2 linked regions of the Homo sapiens genome follow. The protein of the gene in region 1 purifies or fractionates together with the protein of each later gene. This does not show direct contact. Each region holds a gene or a part of one and is shown on either strand. Other genes may lie near its edges. The genes, in order: SLC68A1 and GNA11.

Evidence for each region.
Region 2: the proteins of SLC68A1 (region 1) and GNA11 purify together in Homo sapiens (affinity purification with mass spectrometry, with the first as the bait; one large-scale study listed by BioGRID). This does not show direct contact.

The regions. Positions count from the first base shown.
Region 1 is NC_000010.11:102,474,282-102,477,665, forward strand, and holds the end of SLC68A1 (transmembrane protein 180), read left to right. Parts: intron 1-1,440; coding exon 1,441-1,703; 3' UTR 1,704-2,764; downstream 2,765-3,384.
Region 2 is NC_000019.10:3,100,610-3,104,417, reverse strand, and holds part of GNA11 (guanine nucleotide-binding protein subunit alpha-11), read right to left. Parts: intron 1-3,808. UniProt on the Homo sapiens protein: Guanine nucleotide-binding proteins (G proteins) function as transducers downstream of G protein-coupled receptors (GPCRs) in numerous signaling cascades.

The sequences.
Region 1 (3,384 bases):
GTCTTTGCCACCACGGAGCTTGTATTCTAGTCAGGGGTGGGCTGGGGTTGGCAATAAACATCCAAACAAGACATTATCAGGCAGTAATAGTGTTATGGTGAAATTAAGGTGATGTGAGATGGCGTGACCAAGAAGCTATGTAGTATTATCAGGGAAGGCCTCTCCGAGAAGGTGCCCCTCAGGATGTGAGCTGAATGGCAAGGATTTGTCTAGAAAAGGTCTCAGTGAATCGCAGGCAGAGGGAACAGCAGGCGCAAAGGCCCAGGGTGTCAGGGGTGATTAGGAAATGTGGCTGGAAAAGCGAAGAGGACTTTGTTGATCAGGGCAGTGTTGGAAGCAAGCTGTTGGGAGGGTTTTATTTTTATTTATTTATTTATTTACTTTTTGAGATAGGGTCTCCCTGTCACCCAGGCTGGAGTGCAGTGGCACGATCTTGGCTCACTGCAGCCTCGACCTCCCAGGTTCAAGTGAGCCTGCCACCTAGCCTCCCAAGTAGTTGGGACCACAGGCGTATGCCACCATGCCTGGGTAACTTTTTGTATTTTATGTAGAGATGGGGTTTTGCCAGGTTGCCCAGGCTGGTCTCAAACTCCTGAGCTCAGGTGATCCACCCACCTTGGCCTCCCAAAGTGCTGGGATTACAGGCATGAGCCACCACGCCCGGCCAGGGAGGGTTTTAAACAGGGAAGTGACGTAGTGTGATTGACTTTTTAACAAAATTCACTCTGGGCTGGGTGAGGTGGCTCACACCTGTAATCCCAGCACTTTGGGAGGCTGAGGAGGGCAGATCACCTGAGGTCAGGAGTTTGAGACCAGCCTGGTCAACATATAGTGAAACCCCCGCCTCTACTAAAAAATACAAAAATTAGCTGGGTGTGGTGGCGCATGCCTGTAGCCCCAGCTATTTGGGAAGCTGAGGCAGGAGAATCGCTTGAAACTGGGAGGCCGAGGTTGCAGTGAGTGGAGATCGTGCTACTTCACTCCAGCCTAGGTGACAGAGCGAGACTCCCTCTTTCCAAAAAAAAAAAAGTTCACTCTGGCTGCCATATGGACAGCAGATCATAGGGAGGCCAGAATGGGGACAGCAGGGACATCTTTGGGAGACTGGCAGAGGCCGTGGAGACTTGGGCCAGGGTGGTGGCAGGTGGGATACGTTTTGGAGTTGGGGGGAGATGAAGGATTGGGTGTTGGGGAGTGATGGCGTGAAACCAACCAGGGAACTGAGGAGGACTTTGAGGTTTTGGGCCTGAGTTATTGGGTGGATGGTGGTGCCCGTCACTGAGATGGGAAGAGTAGGAGAGGAGTGGGTTTGGAGGAATCAGGAGTTGTGGTCTGGACACGTCCATGTGGTGTCTGAGATGTCACACCATAGACTTGGAGGGCACCAAGGCTTGGAGGACAGTGGGCTGACCATGGTCTTTCTGTGCTCTCTTGTCCTAGGTCATGACCTCTTCCAGCAGTCCCTCATAACCCCTGTGGGGAGTGCCCATCCCTGGCCAGAGCCCCCAGCTCCAGCCCCTGCACAGGCCCCGACGCTCCGCCAGGGCTGCTTCTACCTGCTGGTGCTGGTGCCCATCACCTGTGCTCTGCTGCAGCTCTTCACCTGGTCCCAGTTCACGCTGCATGGGAGACGCCTGCACATGGTCAAGGCCCAGCGCCAGAACCTGTCACAGGCCCAAACCCTGGATGTTAAGATGGTGTGAGAGCTGTGGCAAGGTCACCCCACTGAGGATGCTGCTGGCAGCCTGGGGAAGGAGCCAGTTTTTTTTGGTTTTTTTTTTAAGGATTTCATAGTTTTTTTTTTTTTTTTTTGGAGCTGTTGCCCAAAAAAATGGATCTGTTGCAGTGGTGCAATCTGGGCTCACTGAAACCACCACCCAGGTTCAAGCAATTATCCTGCCTCAGCCTCCCGAGTAGGTGGGATTATAGGAGCGTGCCACCATGCCCGGCTACTTTTTGTATTTTTAGTAGAGACAGGGTTTCATCATGTTGGCCAGGCTAGTCTCAAACCCCTGACCTTAGGTGATCAGCCCGCCTCGGCCTCCCAGAGTGCTGGGATTACAGGCGTGAGCCACTGTGGCCAACCTAATTTTTGTATTATTTAGTAGAGACAGGGTTTCACCACATTGGCCAGGCTGGTCTCGAACTCCTGACCTCAAGTGATCTGCCTGCCTTGGTCTCCCAAAGTGCTGGGAATACAGGCATGAGCCACCGCACTCGGCCAGGAGCTAGTTTTACCAGCACCCTGCTCCACTGCCTTCCTCTAGTGCAGCCTGGAAGACATGGCAGCGGGTAGCTCCTGGGGCTGAGCCAGAAGCATCACTGCAGTGAAAGTCTCTGCTTACCTGTCTGGCTCAGCTTGGGCAAGGGCTGGGCCATATGTGCTCAGGGACGTGCTTCTCTTGTAAGGCAGGAGGACAGAAGAGGACCAAGAAGGGAGGGGGCTGCCCTGTGGTGCACACAGGCCTGCCATGGGGCGTGGGAGCCCATCCCGCTGCCTGACTGGAGCTGGCCGCTGTGGTGGACTCAGGAACCACTTTTAATACTGCAACTGCTCCCTTTTGCCCAGTCAGGGAAAGCTGACTGTAAGTCCCACCTCCCACTCCGTCCACCCTTCTAGTGGTTTCTCTGAGAGGTTTCTCTGCTTCAGCTGTGCTTGAAGTGGCATGCCTCCTCTGCTGCAGGGCTCCCCCACCCCCACACGGCCTCTAAAGATGTTTATTTCCTTATAGACTGATTAAAGTCAGCCATTCTTTTTCCTCAAGTCTGTGCTGTGTGAGTGAGTGGTGGGTTGCTGGGGTTGAGAACCAGGATTCCTTACTGACTAGAAAAAGCCCCTGAGAGCATTTTTCTGAATAAGAGTGGTAGGTAGGCCGGGCGCAGTGGCTCATGCCTGTAATCCCAGCACTTTGGGAAGCCGAGGTGGGTGGATCACCTGAGGTCTGGAGTTTGAGACCAGCCTGAGCCAACATGGCAAAACCCCATCTCTACTAAAAATACAAAAATTAGCCAGGTGTAGTGGTGTGTGCCTGTAATCCCAGCTACTTGGGAGGCTGGGGCAGGAGAATCGCTTGAACCCAGGAGGAGGAGGTTGCATTGATCGCGCCACTGCATGCACTCCAACCTGGGCGACAGAATGAGACTCCATCTCAAAGAAAAAAAAAACCCACCTTGGTGGGTTACCAAGATGCCAGGGAGAAAAACATAGATTGGTAACTGCATAGGCACTCGGGCCCAAAATGACCATTAGGCCTCAGTGCATTTCCCATGTATCACTGCTGGACATGGTAGTCAAAGAGAGAGGAGCCTCTTTTAGGCCCGAGGTTCTCAGCCTTGGGGTCCCCTGGGGAACTTAAAAAATACTGACATCTCAGTTCCATTCCT
Region 2 (3,808 bases), on another chromosome or scaffold:
AGACGCTAGGGAGCCTGCAGGAGGTACATCCTCAGGTACACTCAGCACGCCACCACTAGGAGGGGCCAGAGTCCGCCCACTGCTCCCACTGAGCCAGCTTCCAGAGGAGAAAACCACCCTCCCGACTGGACCCGCTGGCCAAGATCTGGAGAGGCCAACCAGGAGGAACGAAGTCCGTGCCCCAGCTTCCTTTTCCCCGGTGGGAAAGGAAAACGGAAGAAAAGGAGGCTCCAAGCGCCACAAGAGGGCGCAGCCCTGACAGCAGGAGCTGGGGGCTCATCCGATGCTCAAGATTCAAAGCCGGGCGCGGTGGCTCACGCCTGTAATCCCAGCACTTTGAGGCCGAGGCAGGTGGATCATTTGAGGTCAGGAGTTCAAGACCAGCCTAGCCAACATGGTGAAACCCCGTCTCTACCAAAAAATTTACAAAAATGGCCAGGCATGGTGGCTCACACCTGTAATCCCGGCACTTTGGGAGGCCAAGGTGGGCGGATCACGAGGTCAGGAGATCGAGACCATCCTGGCTAACACGGTGAAACCGCGTCTCCACTAAAACTACAAAAAATTAGCCGGGCATGGTGGCAGGCGCCTGAAAGCTGAGGCAGGAGAATGGCGTGAATCAGGAGGCGGAGCTTGTGGTGAGCTGAGATCGTGCCACTGCACTCCAGCCTAGGCGACAGAGCAAGACTCTTGTCTCAAAAAAAAAAAATTTACAAAAAAAAAAATTAGCTGGGTGTGGCAGTGGGCGCTTGTAATCCCAGCTACTCAGGAGGCTGAGGCAGGAGAAACGCTTGAACCCAAGAGACAGAGGTGAGCAAACATTCTACCACTGCACTCCAGCCTGGGTGACAAGTGAGACCTTGTCTCAAAAAAAAAAAAAAAAAAAAAAAAAAAAAAAGATTCAAGGCCGGGCGCAGTGGCTCACGCCTGTAATCCCAGCACTTTGGGAGGCCAAGGCAAGCGGATCACCTGAGGTCAGAAGTTGGAGACCAGCCTGGCCAACATAGTGAAACCACATCTCCACTAAAAATACAAAAATTAGCCGGGTGTGGTGGCATGCGCCTGTAATCCCAGCTTCTCGGGAGGCTGAGGCAGGAGAATCACTTGAACCAGGAGGCAGAGGTTGCAGTGAGCCAAGACTGCACCACTGCACTCCAGCCTGGGCAACAGAGTGAGACTCTCTCTCAAAAATAAATAAATAAATAAATAAATAACAAATAAAAAGTATATAAAGATTCAAGTAACCCATGACCCCAGTGGCAGGGCTGAGACCTGGGAGCCGACACCTGGGAGTCAGACTTCCAGGGTTCCAGGCTGCTTCCCGTCTACGACGCCTGAGCCGAGCCCCACAGTGCCCAAGACTGTGAGATGTGGGCCGAGAAGCCAGGAAGCCCCCACCAGGCTGCGGGGAGGCCAGGCCAGTGCACACACCGGGAGCAAGGCCAGAGCCACAGGGCCCCACCTGGGGGATACACATGACCGTTTGTCAGCACCCATGAGAAGGCGGGTGGTGGCAGCCCACGCGTGTGCATGCGTGTGCCTGTGATCTTGGCTCTTGGAAACAGCCAGGAAATCTAACCCTGACCAAGAGCTGTACTGGTGGGTGTGGGGTCAGAGCCAGGCACCAACCTGACGCAGGGGCCCGAGGAGGGGCAGCCCTCCTGCAGCGGAGGACGGACGCCCCTCATCCAGCTTCACAAGGGGCCTCATGCCTGCTTCGCTTCAGTCTCAGAACCCCAGGAGGTAGACAGCACCTCAGCGCCTGATTGACTGGAGGGGAAACTGAGGCACGGAGAGGACAAGCTGCCTCCCTGAAGTCACACGACCCCTAATGGCAGGGCCTGAAGAGACTTCGGTCTCCTGGCTCCGCAGCTTATCCCCGGCAGGCAGCCCAGGACGTGCTCTTCTGCTCCAGCACGCACCCTCAGGCAGGGAGGCAAGAAGACAAGGGGGCGCCCTGAGAGAGGAAGTGCACCCGGCTCACCCCGCTGCTGAGGCTCAAGAAAGAGCTGCCCCGAAACTCACTACCCCAGGTGGGGCATGACAGCCAGGGGCAGCGATGGCAGGACAGCCTCTGGACTGGAACCCAATCCCATCTCCACAGCAGCAGAGTCCCCAGGTGCCTCAAAGGTGCAGATACTAACTGCCCCTCGCCGGTCAGGGGCCATGCCACCTTGTTCTGTTCCCACTGAGGCTTCCGTGCAGACTGGCTCCCAAGTGGGAGTGACCCCACCCCTCCACTGGAAGCGGATGGTGTCACTCACTCATGTTTTCTACGTTTTTTTTTTGTTTGTTTTGTTTTGTTTGTTTGTTTGTTTTTGAGACAGAACCTCTCCCTCGGTCGCCCAGGCTGGAGTGCAGTGGTGCAATCTCGGCTCACTGCAACCTCTGCCTCCTGGACTCAAGTGATCCTCCCACCTTAGCCACCCAGGTAGCTGGGACTACAGGTGCACATCACCAAGTCTGGCTAATTTTTTGCATTTTTAGTAGAGACAGGGGTCTCGTCATGTTGCCCAGGCTGGTCTCGAACTCCTGGACTTGAGTGATCTGCCTGACTCGGCCTCTCAAAGTACTTGGATTACAGGCATGAGCCACCGCACCTGGCCATACAAAATTTCTAAGCTCCCGTCTCCTCACGTGCTGGGTCTTCCCACAGCCATTACTGAAGCCCCCCGACAGCCTGGGAGACTGGTCCCCAGCCTTGTGCAGCCCATCTAACCCAGTTGTGGGCACTGGCCTGGACATCTCCACCTGAGGGACAGGGACAGACCCCCGCCCCTGCCCAGCTCACTGACCATCGCCAAAGAGTGTGGGATAGGATCACTGATGGGGGAAGGGCAGGAGTCCGGAGCCCAGGCCCCCTCTCCAGACATCTACCCAGGCCACCAGCAAGGGCCTGACCGGTCAACCCTCGCCGCATCCAGTGGGACTAAGGCCGAGCAAACCAGTGTGGCTGGAGAAAAGGCTGCTTCATTCATCCCACAGCGTGGACCCGGCCCCACAGTCCCTGGGGGCTGCATTCATCCCACAGCGTGGACCCAGCCCCACCACAGCCGTGGGGGCTGCACTCATCCCACAGTGTGGACCTGGCCCCACAGTCCCTGGGGATTAAGACAGGCAACAGAACAGCCACATCTCTGCAGGCCGCACAAGTCCCGCTCGGTGGCGGGGCCCAGCACCCATCAGTGTGGACACGGTTAACAATAGCAACAGACACAGCGCCCTCCAGTTTGACCACACCCTTCAGCCCCCCACCCCACTCCGTCCCTGCAGGGCCCCTGAAACATCAGGGTGACCACACAGTTTGACAGAAGAGAAAACGGAGCCTGGGCCACCGGACGGTGCGGTACCCAGAACACCAACTCCGAGGTCAGACAGGGACAGAAACCTGGGCCAGCACCGTCCCTCCTGGAGCCTCCCAGGCCTTGGGGTCCCCATGTGGACGCCATCCAGGGAGCACCACCGCCCAGGGTTACTCCGCAGCTTTTCGGTGCAAAGCAGCCAGCAGGAAGGGCAGCCACAGGGGACAAGAGGGCTCCCTCCCCGCTGTCTGCCGCACTGGCCTCAGCTCATTTAATCCTTCCACAATCCTACAGGGGGAGGGACAGCCTTCCCACGTGACCGATGGGGAAACTGAGGCCGGGAGAGGGAAGTGACTCGCCCCTGGCTCCCTCCAGAGTGTGCCCCCACTGCCCCGTGCTGGCCAGCCCAGGGCAGCCCAGGCCACAGGCAGGACTCAGAAAGAAGCTTCTGAGAGCCAGCTGCGCACTGTCCCCGGAGACCCCTTCTGCCCAGTGCACAGGCCCAC